Homo sapiens: one gene and its partner. The protein of the gene in region 2 binds, or shares a complex with, the protein of the main gene of each other region. Links are inferred from orthologs where the notes say so. Each region holds a gene or a part of one and is shown on either strand. Other genes may lie near its edges.

What was found. Proteins that work in one complex are often made in the same cells at the same time.
Region 1: the proteins of GIPC1 (region 2) and PLXND1 are in contact, whole or in part, in a crystal structure (PDB 5V6T), measured with the Mus musculus proteins. The link is inferred for Homo sapiens from one-to-one orthologs. Residues at the interface, in NP_061241.1 of Mus musculus: His61, Glu141, Ala142, Leu143, Gly144, Leu145, Thr146, Ile147, Thr148, Asp149, Asn150, Gly151, Phe156, Lys158, Arg159, Arg190, His191, Tyr192, Glu193, Ala195, Arg196, Leu198, Lys199; in NP_080652.2 of Mus musculus: Glu1400, Met1889, Glu1893, Arg1899, Gln1902, Gln1904, His1905, Glu1908, Ile1918, Tyr1919, Cys1921, Tyr1922, Ser1923, Glu1924, Ala1925.

What each region holds. Positions count from the first base shown.
Region 1 is NC_000003.12:129,561,658-129,568,677, reverse strand, and holds part of PLXND1 (plexin-D1 precursor), read left to right. Parts: intron 1-872; coding exon 873-980; intron 981-1,073; coding exon 1,074-1,186; intron 1,187-2,046; coding exon 2,047-2,151; intron 2,152-2,660; coding exon 2,661-2,791; intron 2,792-3,139; coding exon 3,140-3,338; intron 3,339-5,437; coding exon 5,438-5,584; intron 5,585-5,734; coding exon 5,735-5,891; intron 5,892-6,774; coding exon 6,775-6,878; intron 6,879-6,968; coding exon 6,969-7,020. UniProt on the Homo sapiens protein: Cell surface receptor for SEMA4A and for class 3 semaphorins, such as SEMA3A, SEMA3C and SEMA3E. Plays an important role in cell-cell signaling, and in regulating the migration of a wide spectrum of cell types.
Region 2 is NC_000019.10:14,493,118-14,500,688, reverse strand, and holds the start of GIPC1 (PDZ domain-containing protein GIPC1), read left to right. Parts: upstream 1-4,561; 5' UTR 4,562-4,652; intron 4,653-7,571. UniProt on the Homo sapiens protein: May be involved in G protein-linked signaling.

The DNA.
Region 1 (7,020 bases), on a different chromosome or scaffold from region 2:
ACTCAGGAGGCTGAGGTGGGAGGATCACCTGAGCCTGGGAGGTGGAGGCTGCAGTGAGATGTGATCGCGCCACTGTACTTCAGCCTGGGTGCCAGAGTAAGACTGTCTCAAAAGAAAAAAAGAAAGAAAAGAAACCATTGAAGTATACACTTTAAATCACTGGATTATATGGTATGTACGTTATTTCACAATAAAGCTGTTTTATTTTTAAAGTGAGTATATTCAATGCAGAAAATTTTTGGAAAAACTGAAAGATGATAAAAGGAAAAAATACCCATCATTAATACCCTGTGTATTTTTGTATCTTCCCTCCCAGTCTCTTTTCTGAAAATACTATATATTAATAGATATTTTAATACATTATGTATATATTCCTCCCCACCCCAGGAAAGGTTATAATGTAATATTGCTTTGTAATCTGCTTTTAAAAGTTTCTTAATTTACAAGTAACACCTGGTCATTGTAGAAGGAATAGAAAATGCTCAAAAGCAGAAAGTAAACCGAAGTCACCCAGAATCCTCCCACCCAGGAAAGCCACTGTTAACCACTATTTCACACACACGTATTCCTGTTTCTTTTTTTTTTTAACGGGGCTAGACAAATTCTAACAGAGCTGTAACACTACACACTTCTTTTTCTAAGGACGGGTCATCAGGCATTGCTTTGCTGGCCATTCCCCAAGCCCTCTGTCCACGGGAGAGCTCCCCGCAACTCCCCACCCCCCACCCCAACCCTGCCCAGGAGGGAGGACTGCAGGGCCTCCTCCCACACCCTGCCCAGAGGAGCTGGAGCGGAGGCCAGAATACAGCAGGCGCCAATAAAGGCTTTCCAAAGGGCACCAGAGGCCTGACCTGCCTCTCCACTGCCCGCAGCCCTGTTCGTCTTCTGTACCAAGAGCCGACGTGCTGAGCGTTACTGGCAGAAGACGCTGCTGCAGATGGAGGAGATGGAATCTCAGATCCGAGAGGAAATCCGCAAAGGTAGTGGGCGGGGACCCTGCAGGGCTGGGCCTCAACTTTCCCTCCTAGGGGATGGGTTCTCGGGCCGCTCACGGCTGTCCGTGTGTCCGCCAGGCTTCGCTGAGCTGCAGACAGACATGACAGATCTCACCAAGGAGCTGAACCGCAGCCAGGGCATCCCCTTCCTGGAGTATAAGCACTTCGTGACCCGCACCTTCTTCCCCAAGGTCAGCCCGAGCCTGAGCCTGCCCTGAACCTGTGCCAGCCACCTCAAGGCAACTCGACCTCTCTGAGCCCTGCCAGCCTATAGGGTCCCTTGAGCAGTGCCAAACCTGCACAGCTGTCCGCAGCCGTCCTGGCCACTTGCCCTGGCCTGCCACGGGGAGAAGGGTTGGAGGCAGATTCTCCACTGTCATTCTCTGCTCACTTGATGTTTAACAGTCCATATGGAAGCCAGCTGCAGCCCCGCTGTCCTGGCCAGCTGGGCCTGCCTCTCCCCTTTTCAAGGTGGGGCAGAAGCGGCCAGGGCTGTCCCAGGCCAGCCTCTCTCCTTCCTGTGCCTCTTCCCAGCCAGGCTTCCCTTGGTCTCTACACTCCCTCCTCCTGTCCACTGGACTCCTGCCCCATCCCTTCCATGCCTCTCATGCCTCCCCTTGCCCTTCCAGGGTCCACTACCCTCACTCTACCTCCTAGTGGTACCACCCTCTCTCCCCTGTCCACACCATTCCCCACACAGTGGCCAAAGCAAGCCCATGTTTGACTACATCATTTTTCACGAAACCCTCCAGTAGCTTTTCCCAGCCTCAGGCTAAAGCTCAGACTCCCAGCCTTTCTGCCTCAGTTTCCCCCATTGCACATGGAGCTGCTTTTGCTTCCCCTTAAGTCTTGTGCTGTCTTGTGTGGCCACACCCCTGGAATTCCACAGCCCCCAGGCTTGGCCCACTGCCTCTTAGTCCTTTATGGGGAGCTAATTCCGTGCCAGTTTCCCCCAGCAGCCCAAGCCAGTGCCCCTTTCTGTGTGAGTGACCTTTCCATGCCAGCAGGGGGTGTCCAGCCCCGCTGAGATGCTGGGGGTCTGCCTCTGCAGTGTTCCTCCCTTTATGAAGAGCGTTACGTGCTGCCCTCCCAGACCCTCAACTCCCAGGGCAGCTCCCAGGCACAGGAAACCCACCCACTGCTGGGAGAGTGGAAGGTGAGTACCCCACGACCCACACACAGTGGGCTGCTTCAGGGCAACCCTGCTCCCCCCTGGGTCCCCTTTCCAGTTCATCTAATGCATTGATCCCTGTCATGCGGAGTTGGGAGGCATCTGCCATTGTAAGGTACTGAGCCCTCCATCCCAGGAGGCATTCAGGCAGCCATTCAGGGTATTATAAGTGCTGCCCCCGCAGGCCAGGTAGAGCAGACAGAGGATTGGGCCCCCCTGTACACCCCACTCAACCTGCTTAGAAAATGGAAGGTGAGAGTCCTCCACACTGGGATGCCAGGTTACCTCCAGGCACCCTTACCCTTCTCTGAGCCCCACTTTTCAATTCAACCAAGCTATTGTTCCCTGTCACAAAGGTTAGGAGGCATCCACCGTGGAAGGTAATGAGCTCCCCATCCCAGGAGGCATACAAGCAGCCGTCGTAAGCACTGGCTGTTAGGCTAGGCAGGGACACTGGGCCCCTCTGGACACCCCATCACCAGTTGCTTCCACAGATTCCTGAGAGCTGCCGGCCCAACATGGAAGAGGGAATTAGCTTGTTCTCCTCACTACTCAACAACAAGCACTTCCTCATCGTCTTTGTCCACGCGCTGGAGCAGCAGAAGGACTTTGCGGTGCGCGACAGGTCAGGCTGTGACAGACTGGGGTGGGGTAGGGAAGAGGAGCCTGTCCAAGGCCACACAGCATCAGGTCCTGGGTCCTGGGGCTCTGGGGCTCTTGACACCCCCATATTCCAGCCCTTCCTGGGCCGGGATGCCCAAGACCTTGGCTCACGGGGCACGATGGTTGCTGTGGACGTAGAAGAAGGTGGCTGTTTCTCCAGGAGGATTCTAGCCCCACTCACCCCTCGCAGGACCCACCCACACAGGCACTCCTGGGATCGATGGGCCCGGGGATGAGGCGGCACTGAGACCCTGGGACCCACAGCTCCTAGGGCCTCAAGGTGCAGTTGACACCTGCCTCCCGCTCACAGGTGCAGCCTGGCCTCGCTGCTGACCATCGCGCTGCACGGCAAGCTGGAGTACTACACCAGCATCATGAAGGAGCTGCTGGTGGACCTCATTGACGCCTCGGCCGCCAAGAACCCCAAGCTCATGCTGCGGCGCACAGAGTCTGTGGTGGAGAAGATGCTCACCAACTGGATGTCCATCTGCATGTACAGCTGTCTGCGGGTGAGGCTGCCTGGGGACAGACAGAGCCCAGGCGGGGGACGTGGCAGGGACTCAGCGGCAGTGACCCCACGGCCTCCCAGGCCTTCCCTGGCACCCTCAGGCCAGCTCTGCCAGGAGGGAGTGTTGCATGAGACAGGCCAGGCCCGTAGGACCTGTTATGCAGAGAGGGGAGCCATGGCCCCGGGGAAGCCTGGCTGGCTTGCTGCAAGGGCTCAACGGATGCTTGGGGCATAACAGAGGTTGTGTCAGGGGCCTTGTCCCATCTGTGGTTTTCTCAGTCATCCACCCTTCCCTGCTCTGGATTCAGGAGATGAAATCAGCCCCTGGCTGGCCCTTGAGGCTCTCCCAGCCCTAGGCTAGGCGAGACGTGGAAACAAAATACAGGGTGGCCAGTGCCTCGCAGCAGAGCTCAGCTCACGAGGCCTCCCTCTGTCTGAAGGCTTCAAGGTGGCTTCCTGGAGCAGGCAACCCTGTGCTGAGACCTAAGAGAGTGAGCCAGGCGAGGAGTGGTGGGGAGGGTGCTCCAGGCATCGGGTACAGCACAAGGGCAGAGGCCGGGAGGAGGGGATGTTCGTGGAAGGAATAGAAGGAAGGCCAAAGAATCTTCTGGATGAGAGCGGAGGCTGGGAAGAGGGTGGGCCCGGTAACCAGGGCCTCCTGCACTCTGCCAGAAGGACCCCCATAAGCTCTCTTCGCAGAGCAAGGGTTGCTTAGCCTCTTGTCCTGTCCCACTGTCCAGCTGCCCTATGGTGGCAGAGGCTAGAGGGCTGCCTGGAGGATTGTGGGAGAAAGGCAAAGGCCTGCCTGGAGCCCAGAACCGGGGCCTCGGATGTTCTGTTTTTTGTTATTAATTTTTGAAGAGATGGGGGTCTTGCTTTGTTGCACAGGCTGGTCCCAAACTCCTGAGCTCAAGCAATCCTCCCGCTTTGGCCTCCCAAAGTGCTGGGATTACAGGGGTGAGCCACTGCACCCAGCCAAGATGTCCTGGGCTTGAGTCCAATCTTTGGCACAGCCCAGCTGTGTGACTCTGGGCTACTCATTGCCCTCTGTGGGCCTTGGTTTCCTTCTGTCAAATGGGGCCTCTGCCCCTGAGCCTGGGGCTTGAGGGCCAAGTAGCCTGGGGGAGCCCCACGGCTCCTCCTGGGGGAAGGGGGTAGTGGGGTGGAGCAGAGGCAGGGCCTGGGAGGGGCCATTGGGGTGCCTCCGCCTTCTGCGGGCTGCCTCACTGTGGGCCATCAGGAACCACAAGGGCCACTGTGGACCCTGGACCTCACTCCCCTGGCTTCTTTCTGTGGCCTCAGCCAGGCCTTCCCCTATGAGCCTGTTTCCTCCTCTAGGAAGCAGGGAATCAGTGCCTCCCACGCCCCAGACCTGGAGAATTGGACCAGGACTTGGGCTGGCAGGCTGCCTTCGTAATCTTTGCCAAATCTGCCTAATACTATTATGTACTTAATTTTTCTTTAAATCAATTTTTGTGGATAGTTAAGTAAAACTATCCCAGTGGAACACCTGGGTCCCTTGCTGGGCAATGGCCTTGAGAATCAGCTCATGGCTGTGGGTCCAGCAGAGCCACTGCCTGGAGGGCCACCCTTGGAGATGGGCAAGAGCAGGGACATTGAGCCCCATTCCTCCTGAGACTCCATAGTCATCAGCCTGCAAGTGGGGTCGAGGCCACATCGGTGTTTCGGGTCCACCTAAACTCACACTTGGGGGCCCCCCACTTAGTAGAAAGTCACAGGCTTGGGAGTCAGCCGAGCCAGGTCCGATTCCTGCCCTGCCGCTTCCCAGCTGGGTGATCTTGGGCAGGTCACTTGCCCTCTCTGAGCCTCGGCACTGTTGGCTGCACAGTAAGAATGATACTCCGTATCCGGAAGGGTTGCCGGGATGATGCAATGAATGCACCCACCCACAGCTGGTGGTGTTTAATGAACACGAGCTTAGGGTCCGTGGAGACACCCTGGAGAGGAGAGTGTTGACACCAGGATCCAAAAGGAGACTGTTGGAGGGGTTGGGGGACGGGGGCGTGAAGGTGTTTGGCCCAAAGCATGGGGGCTGGAATACAGAGGGGGCCTTGGCCCTGATACCCCCGTGCCCCTCAGGAGACGGTGGGGGAGCCATTCTTCCTGCTGCTGTGTGCCATCAAGCAGCAAATCAACAAGGGCTCCATCGACGCCATCACAGGCAAGGCCCGCTACACACTCAGTGAGGAGTGGCTGCTGCGGGAGAACATCGAGGCCAAGCCCCGGGTAAGTCGGCAGGGCGGGGAGGGTCCCAGGGCTGCTGTGTCGCCGCCAACGGCATTGACCCAGCCTTCCTCTGCAGGGCCTTGCTGCCTGGGCACTGACATAGTGATGGCAGCAACTCACTGACCTTTCTCTCCCACTCTCCCCCTGCAGAACCTGAACGTGTCCTTCCAGGGCTGTGGCATGGACTCGCTGAGCGTGCGGGCCATGGACACCGACACGCTGACACAGGTCAAGGAGAAGATCCTGGAGGCCTTCTGCAAGAATGTGCCCTACTCCCAGTGGCCGCGTGCAGAGGACGTCGACCTTGGTGGGTGGGAATGGGGGCAGAGACCCCGTGTCAGGCGCTTCAGCCGGGGCTGGCCCCTGCCTTGACGGGAAACACTCCTTTCACCTGGCATGGGTGCATGAATGTGGGGACACTGAGAGGATCCAATGAGGCCCCCTCAGCAAGAAGCTCTTACTCTGTAGGAGACAAGTCCTGCAGTGTGAGTGAACTACGGACAACAGCAAAAAGCCTTCAGGAAAGGCTTCCTAATTCCTAAAGGAGGGATGCTGGAGTAGGGTTGGTTTGTTTGTTTGTTTTTGAGACGGGATCTCATTCTGTCACCCAGGCTGGAGTGCAGTGGCGCAATCTCAGCTCACTGCAGCCTCGACCTCCTGGGCTCAAGTGATCCCCTCATTTCAGCCTCCTGAGTAGCTGGGACTACAGGAGTGCACCACCACATCCAGCTAATTTTACTTTTTGTAAAGATAGTGTCATGCTGTGCTGCCCAGGCTGGTCTTGAACTCCTGGGCTCAAGCGATCCTCCTGCCTCATCCTCCCAAAGTGCTGGGATTACAGGTGTGAGCCACCGCGCGGGGCCTGGAGTGGGTTTTATAGGAGTCTTGGTTAGGCCAAGGGTTTCATCAGCAATTGTAACATGAACAGCCTTGCAGACAAGGCCATTTCCAGAGCTCCTCCTCTGTGCCCTCCACCCTGGCACCTTCTCTTTGTACCCTCACACTCTCCCCCAGCTCTTTCCTGCCCTCCCCATTTTACAGATGGGAAAATGGAGGCTCAGAGAGAGGTATGGCTTGCCTCAGTTTACATGGAGAGAGCGAGAGGCCTCTCCCTATGTGGCTGGGCCGGTACCTACCCCTCAGGCCCAGCTCCCTGCCCGGACCCTGATGGCCTGTCCCTTGTCCCCCAGAGTGGTTCGCCTCCAGCACACAGAGCTACATCCTTCGGGACCTGGACGACACCTCAGTGGTGGAAGACGGCCGCAAGAAGCTTAACACGCTGGCCCATTACAAGGTGCAGCCCTGCCCCCCGCCCCCATTTCCCCACCCTCATGCCCCCACCCCAACCTCCGGCCTCTGACCTCGGCCTCTCCCCTCCCATCAGATCCCTGAAGGTGCCTCCCTGGCCATGAGTCTCATAGACAAGAAGGACAACA
Region 2 (7,571 bases):
AGGAGATCAAGACCATCCTGGCTAACACGGTGAAGCCCCGTCTCTACTAAAAATACAAAAAATTAGCCATACATGGTGGCGGGCGCCTCTAGTCCCAGCTACTCGGGAGGCTGAGGCAGGAGAATGGCATGAACCTGGGAGGCAGAGCTTGCAGTGAGCCAAGATCGTGCCACTGCACTCCAGCCTGGGAGACAGAGCGAGACTCCGTCTCAAAAAAAAAAAAAAAAAAGGAAACTGTGGAAGAGTCAGGTGCGGTGGCTCACTCATGCCTGCAATCCCAGCACTCTGGGAGGCCAAAGCGTGCGGATTACTTGAGGCCAGGAGTTCAAAACCAGTCTGGACAACATGGTGAAACCCGGTCTTCACTAAAAAATACAAAAAATTAGCTAGGCATGGTGACACATGCCTCTAATCCCAGCTACTCGGGAGGCTGAGGCGTGAGAATCGCTTGAGCCTGCGAGGTGGAGGTTGCAGTGAGTTGAGATCACATCACTGCACTCCAGCATGGGTGACAGAGTGAGACTCTGTTTCAAAAAAAAAATAAAGAAAATGTGGAAGTATAAGTTTGCCATATAGGGATGAAAAGGCCTTCTTTTGTTTTGTTTTGGGAGATAGGGTCTTGCTCAGTCACCCAGGCTAGAATGCAGTGGTGTGATCATAGCTTACTGTAGGCTTGAACTCCTGGGCTCAAGTGATCCTCCCACCTCAGCCTCCTGAGTAGCTGGGACTATAGTCCAGTGCCTCCTTTTCTGGCTAATTTTTATTATTTTTTGTAGAGACAGGGTCTCATTATGTTACCCAGGCTGGTCTTGAACTCCTGGTGTCAAGCAATCCACCTGCCTCAGCCTCCCAAAGTGCTGGGATTACAGGCATGAGCTAGTGTGCCCAGCCAAGCATTCTTAATATAACTTCACAGTGAGTTCTATTATATCAAAATTAAGAATTTCCCTCCAATGAAGGATATCATGGGTGAAGCAAATTTTCCCCTGACAGAGTGGGAGGACAAATATACAATGTGTAAAACTGCACCTAGGTCATCAGGAGAGTTACATGGTTTAATAAATAGGAAGTTCTTGGAATGATGCCTGGCACATAGGAAGCTGTAGCTCATAGCTCACTGTAGCCTCGACTCCTGGGCTCAAGTGATCCTCCTGCCTCAGCCTCCCGAGTAGCTGGGACTACAGGCACACAGCACCACACCCATTTTTGTAGAGATGGAGGTCTTGCTATGTTGCCTCGGCTAGTCTCGAACTCCTGCCCTCAAGGGATCCTTTCAGCCTCAGCCTCCAAGTCACTGGGATTAGAGGCTGCAGCCACTGCACTCAGCAAAACAATGATGTTCTAACGCACACAACCTTCCCTTCTGCATGTGTTAGCTGGCATTCAAGGATGGAATTTTTTTCTTTTTTCTGTTTTTTCTTTTTCTTTTTTTTTTTTTTTTTTTGAGACGGAGTCTCGTTCTGTTGCCCAGGCTGGAGGGCAGTGGCGCAATCTCGGCTCACTGCCAGCTCCGCCTCCCGGGTTCACACCATTCTCCTGCCTCAGCCTCCTGAGTAGCTGGGACTACAGGCGCCCACCATCACACCCAGCTAATTTTTGTATTTTTAGTAGAGACGAGGTTTCACCATGTTGGCCAGGCTGGTCTCGAACTCCTGACCTTGTGATCCGCCCGCCTCACCCTCCCAATGTGTTGGGATTACAGGCGTGAGCCATTGCACCCGGCCTCTTTTTTCTTTTAAAGGAACAGAGGTAGCGCTCACATCTAAGCTGCTCACCATTGGACTTCCCAGCCTCAGCTTTTAGGCATTCCTCTTGAGCTATAAAATCGGGAAGGAGGGCTGGGCATGGTGGCTCACACCTGTAATCCCAGCACTTTTGGGAGGCCAAAGAGGGAGGATGGCTTGAGCCCAGGAGTTCAAGACCAGCTCTGTGCAACATGGTGAGACCCTGTCTCTATCAAAAAACAAACAAATGGGCCTGGCACAGTGACTCATGCCTGTAATCCCAGCATTTTGAGAGGATGAGGCAGTTGGATCACTTGAGGCCAGGAGTTCGAGACCGGCCTGGCCAACAGGATGAAACCCTGTCTCTACTAAAAATACAAAACTAGCCAGATGTGGTGGCGGGTGCCTGTAATCCCAGCTAATCAGGAGGTTGAGGCAGGAGAATCGCTTGAACCTGGGAGGTGGAGGTTGCAGTGAGCCGAGATTGCGCCATTGCACTCCAGCCTGGGCAACAAGAGTGGAACTCTGTCTCAAAACAAACAAACAGACAAACAAAGGAATAGACTGCGTGCAGTGGCTCATGCCTGTAATCCCAGCATTTCAGGAGGACGAGGCAGGTGGATCACTTGAGGCCAGGAGTTCGAGACCAGCCTGGCCAACATGGCGAAACCCCGTCTCTTTTAAAAATACAAAAAATTTAGCCGAGCATGATGGCGCACGCTGTAATCCCAGCTACTCAGGAGACTGAGGCGTGAGAATTGCTCGAACCTGAGAAGCGGAGGTTGCAGTAAGCTGAGATTGCACCACTGCACTGCAGCCTGGGTGACAGAGTGAGGCTCCGTCTCAAAAAAACAAACAAACAAACAACAACAACAACAAAAATTAGCCAGGTGTGGTGGTACATGCCTGTGGTCCCAGCTACTCGGTAGGCTAAGATGGGAGGATTACTTGAGCCTAGGAGGTGGAGGTTGCAGTGAGCTGAGATCCTGCCACTGCATTCCAGCCTGGCCAACGGAGCTAGACACTGTCTCAAAAAAAAAAAAAAAAAAATTCAGAAAGGAGGTGCCCAGTGCTGCTCTGTGTCTTGAGCAATCCCACAATCCCATCACCCCTTCTCCGGGCACTTCCTCATCAGGAAACAGGAGCCAGTTGGAGTCTGGCTCAGGACTCTGCAGCCTCAGTCATGCTGTCCCCTGGGCTCAGCATCCCGTCCTCTCCAAGTGTGCAGGGGGCAGCTTAGATGCCAGGCTCAAGCAGGGCAGGCAGCACAGTCCCACAGAGGGTACTGGCCAGCCCAGGCAACTGATTGCTCAGTGGGATGGCAGAGGTCAGCAGAACAGGAAGGGACGGACAATAGCTGTGCCTGTTGCCTGGCCTGCCACAGCAATCTCGGTGTTTGCCAGCTGGGTGGGGCTGGCTAGGCAATCCTCAGCAGCAAAGCTCAAGGTTCCATCTCCCATTTTAGTTTGCCCCTCTGCAGGTCCTGGTGGGACTGATATGCACAACATCTCACCCTGGGAACTGCAAAGAACCAGTCTTTCTATGGAGCTTGAGCAGGGTCTCAGCACTTAGAGGCTTCCAGGAACTACAGTTCCCAGAACACACAGCATTCAGCCCCAGTTGCTGTCCAAGTGGCTGGGTTTGAACTAGAACAAGGAAATCTCACTTGTCCCGGGAACTGAGCGTCCTGGCCTGGTCCAGGTGCATTTGTGACTCTTGTTTCTTGGATCTGTGTCCACCTGATAAATCCCCCTTCCTTATAAACTACATGGTCTATTTGTCCACACAGGTTTGCTGAGAACCTGCCGTGTGGCAGCCTGAGGTGGGAGTGAGGGGTTGACAAGAGAGACTCAGCCTCCACCCTCACAGTCAGATGGAGGAGACAGATCTATGAAAGGCTGGCTGGGTACCTTCTGTGACCTAGCACATAAACAAACCAACAAGCAGATAAACTATCTCACCCTTGTCTTTCATTGCATCTTGCCTTTCCACACTGATTTACTAGCTCCCACGATATTGCAGTATCCTAAAGCGTGCTGTATCTCTCTGTCCGGCTTTTGCACGCTCTGTTACCTCTACCAGGAGCACATTCAGCTTATTCACTGACGCGTCTTCAGAGGTAGGACAGAGTCTGGCACGGAGCAGTCTGGCACATTAAATATTTGATGAGTGAGTGAACGAATGAATGAATGAATGCCTTTGTCCATTGTACAGCCCAGGAAGCAGGGAAACTCGGGACCCTCCCTATTCATCTCGATCCCCCGCCCGCCCCCAGAGATTGAATGCATCTTTTTATCCGCTCCGAGGATGGCCAGGCTGGGGCAGAGGAGGCCGGGCAGGGAACTGGGTTGGGGACTGCCATTGACCCCCACCCAGGTCTCCTAAACTGTCCGCTTTCCTGGACGTCGGAAGTTCGAATCCTTTCCCCGAAACCTGGCCTAGGTCACCTGACTCCCCCGCCCCTCACCACCCAGGGCACCCGAGACTGACACTCAGCCGACAGCACGTGGTTCAGGGGCCCCAGCTTCCTTCCCATTGGCCGCTTGTCTCCTTCCTCCCTCGCGATTGGCCGGGGCCCAGCTGCAGCTCCCCCCCCTCCTCAGCCCTCCGGTGGTACAGCCAGCCGCGGCTTAGGCGGGGCGGAACGGTCCACTGCTTCGCGGCGAGGGGAGGAGTCGGGAAGAGCCGGGCGAGGCGGAGGGATCCCTCTGGAATGTTTCCGTCGGGTCCACCCGAAGCGGAAGACGCGGATTGGCTGCGAGCACCGAGAGGCAGCCGCTGATTGGCCGGCCGCGGGCGTCGGCCCCGCCCCCCAGGCGCCGCTGCGGGAGAGGCCCGGTCTGGAGTTTGCGGAGGGCCGAGCCGGGTGCGCACGGGGAGGCGGAGGCAGCGGCGGCGGCGGCGGCGGCGGCGGCGGCGGCGGAGCAGGTGAGTGGCCTCTGCGAGAAGGATGTGTCTGCTCCGGGGGCCTCGGGGGTCGCGGGCCTGCGAGGATCCGGCCGATCCTGCAGGGTGGGGCCGGCGCCGTGGACGCGACTGGAGGTCTAGGCTGCGCGCGGGGATGCCGGAGGCCCCTTCCCAGGGGAAGCGGGGGTGGGGGGTGGTGGGGGCAGCTCCCTTCCTGCTGGCGGGCAGGGGACAAACGCCTCCCAACGCTGGGCTGGGGTTTCTGGGCTTGCCCCTCCCCCCGTCCCCCGGCTGGACTGTCCCCATCCCAGCGTGGACAGGCGCGGGGTCAGTGTTTCTGACCCTTTCCTGGGCACTTCCCCTGAGCTAACCGCGTCTGAACCCTCCAGGGCCTTGGGGGGGACGCAGTGAGGACCACGGTCTGAATAATAATCGTCATGAAAAACTCCACCTCAGCTAGCATTTATTGGAGAGCTTCCGTGTCAGGCATTTACCATGAGGATAATTGACTCTAAACACCTCATGGGAGGTGCTGTGCCTTCTTGTAAAAAAGGTGAGGCAGCCTACCCAGAGAGGTGGAGTGACTTGCCCAAGGTCACACAGCTAGTAACTGGCACATCTGGGACTGGAACTCATGCCCCAGGGTCCAGAACTGGAGTCACACCCACTAGACTGGATACCAATAACTCCACGGCTCAGTTGTTGCTGAGTAGCTCCGGCCCCCTACCCCTCCCACCCCCTACCCCGTACTCATCATCAGGGCCACACCTGCTGGTCTTTTGCTTTACCAGCCACTCAAACAGGAAGCTGCCCTCCTTTCCCTTCTCCCCAGAGCTGGAGAGGGCAGGTCTAACTACCTGGGTCCAGAGAAGAGAGTGGCGTCTGCAGGGGGCCAGGATGCTGGGGTCTGGGCCCACTGGGTTCCCCCCTGGCAACCTGGGCCGAGGCTGGGAAGTAGGCGTTCTCCCCGGAAACACCCAGGAGCCGGTTTTTCAAGAGTGAATCAGAGGCCTCTTTCCCTCCTTCTCTCCAAAGCAACACTGTGCTGGAACGGGGAGCCTGGGCGTGGTTTCCCCCTTCCCCTAGCTTCTGTGTGCTCCCAGGAACCCCCTTCCCCTCCTCCTGCTGGCCACACTGCTTCTGTGTGGCCGTGGGGTTGCTAAGTTTCAGGCCCTTCCCAGGATGAGGGGGTGAGGATGCTGAAATTCCAGCCCAAACACTCAATATCCGGGCTGAAGTGGCTCTTCATCTCTGTGTTCAGGTGTGAGGGGAGCCAGGGAAAGTGGGGAGCCTAGGACAGTTGGCAACCGCACAGCAGGCATGTTTAGGGGGCTGTTTCAAGGATGGGGAGCACAGAGAGCAATCAGAACGAGGACCTGAGACACATTCATTCACTCAGTCTACAAATATTTAGTGAGCACCTGCTACGTGCATGTGCTAGGCACTGTTCTTGGCACAGAAAATGCAACAGTGAACAAAACAAAATCCCTACTTTTGAGGAGTTGGCACTCTGAAAGGAAGGAAGCAGCCAACAAACAAGTTAGCAAGTAAATAAAGAAGATAATTTCAGATGGCACTAACTGCTATGAATAAAATATGAGCGGGTGGTACTGTAGAGAGTAGTTGTGGGCAAGGGGTGCCAGCCCAGCAAAGATCAGGCAAGGGGGCCCGGGCGCGGTGGCTCACGCCTGTAATCCCAGCACTTTGGGAGGCCGAGGCGGGTGGGTTGCTTGAGGTCAGGAGTTTGAGACCAGCCTGGCCAACATGGGGAAACCCTGTCTCTACTAAAAATACAAAAATTGGCTAGGGGCATGGCTCACCCCTGTAATCCCAGCACTTTGGGAGGCTGAGACAGGTGGGTCAAGAGGTCAGGAGTTTGAGACCAGCCTGATCAACATGGTGAAACCCCCTCTCTCCTAAAAATATGAAAATTAGCTGGGTGTGGTGGCGCACGCCTGTAAGCCCAGCTACTCAGGAGGCTGAGGCAGGAGAATCGCTTGAACCCGGGAGGCGGAGGTTGCAGTGAGCTGAGATCGTGCCACTGCACTCCAGCCTGGGCTACAGAGCGAGACTCCATCTCAAAAAAAAATAAAAATAGGCCAGGCGTGGTGGCTTATGCCTGTAATCCCAGCACTTTGGGAGGCCGAGGCAGGCAGATCACCTGAGGTCAGGAGTTCAAGACCAGCCTGACCAACATGGAGAAACCCTGTCTCTACTAAAAATATAAAATAAGCTGGGCGTGGTGGCACATGCCTGTAATCACAGCTACATGGGAGGCTGAGGCAGGAGAGAATCGCTTGAACCCGGTAGGCAGAGGTTGCGGTGAGCCAAGATCGCGCCATTGCACTCCAACCTGGGCAACAAGAATGAAACTCCGTCTCAAAAATAAATAAATAAATAAAAATAAACAAATACAAAATAAAAATACAAAAATTAGCCGGATGTGGTGGTGCGTGCCTGTAATCCCAGCTACTCAGGAGGCTAGGGCAGAAGAATCGTTTGAACCCAGGAGGTGGAGGTTGCAGTGAGCTGAGATGGCGCCACTGCACTCCAACCTGGGTGACAGAGCAAGACTCCATCTCGAAAAAAAAAAAAGAGAGAGAGATGGGCAAGGCCAAGGTCTTTAGGCTGGACCAAGTTTGGAATCACATGGTTGGAGCAGAAGATGAACCCAGAGCAGCGATTCTGCAGGGGTTTGTGGGTCACAGTAAGGAGATTGCAGTTTTTCTTCCAGAAGGTGGGAAACTGTTGTAAAGTTTCAGGCAGGGCAGTGATGCCATCTGGTTTACGTTTTAAAATAGAGACATGAAGTTAAATGACAGCCTGAAGCTGGAAGACAAGAGTTCTGCCAGGGCAGCATGCAATTAAGTTCATGGGCCTGAGCCATCTGTACCACAGGGGCAGTTCCAGCATGCTGGGGCAAGCCTGGGAGGCTTCATG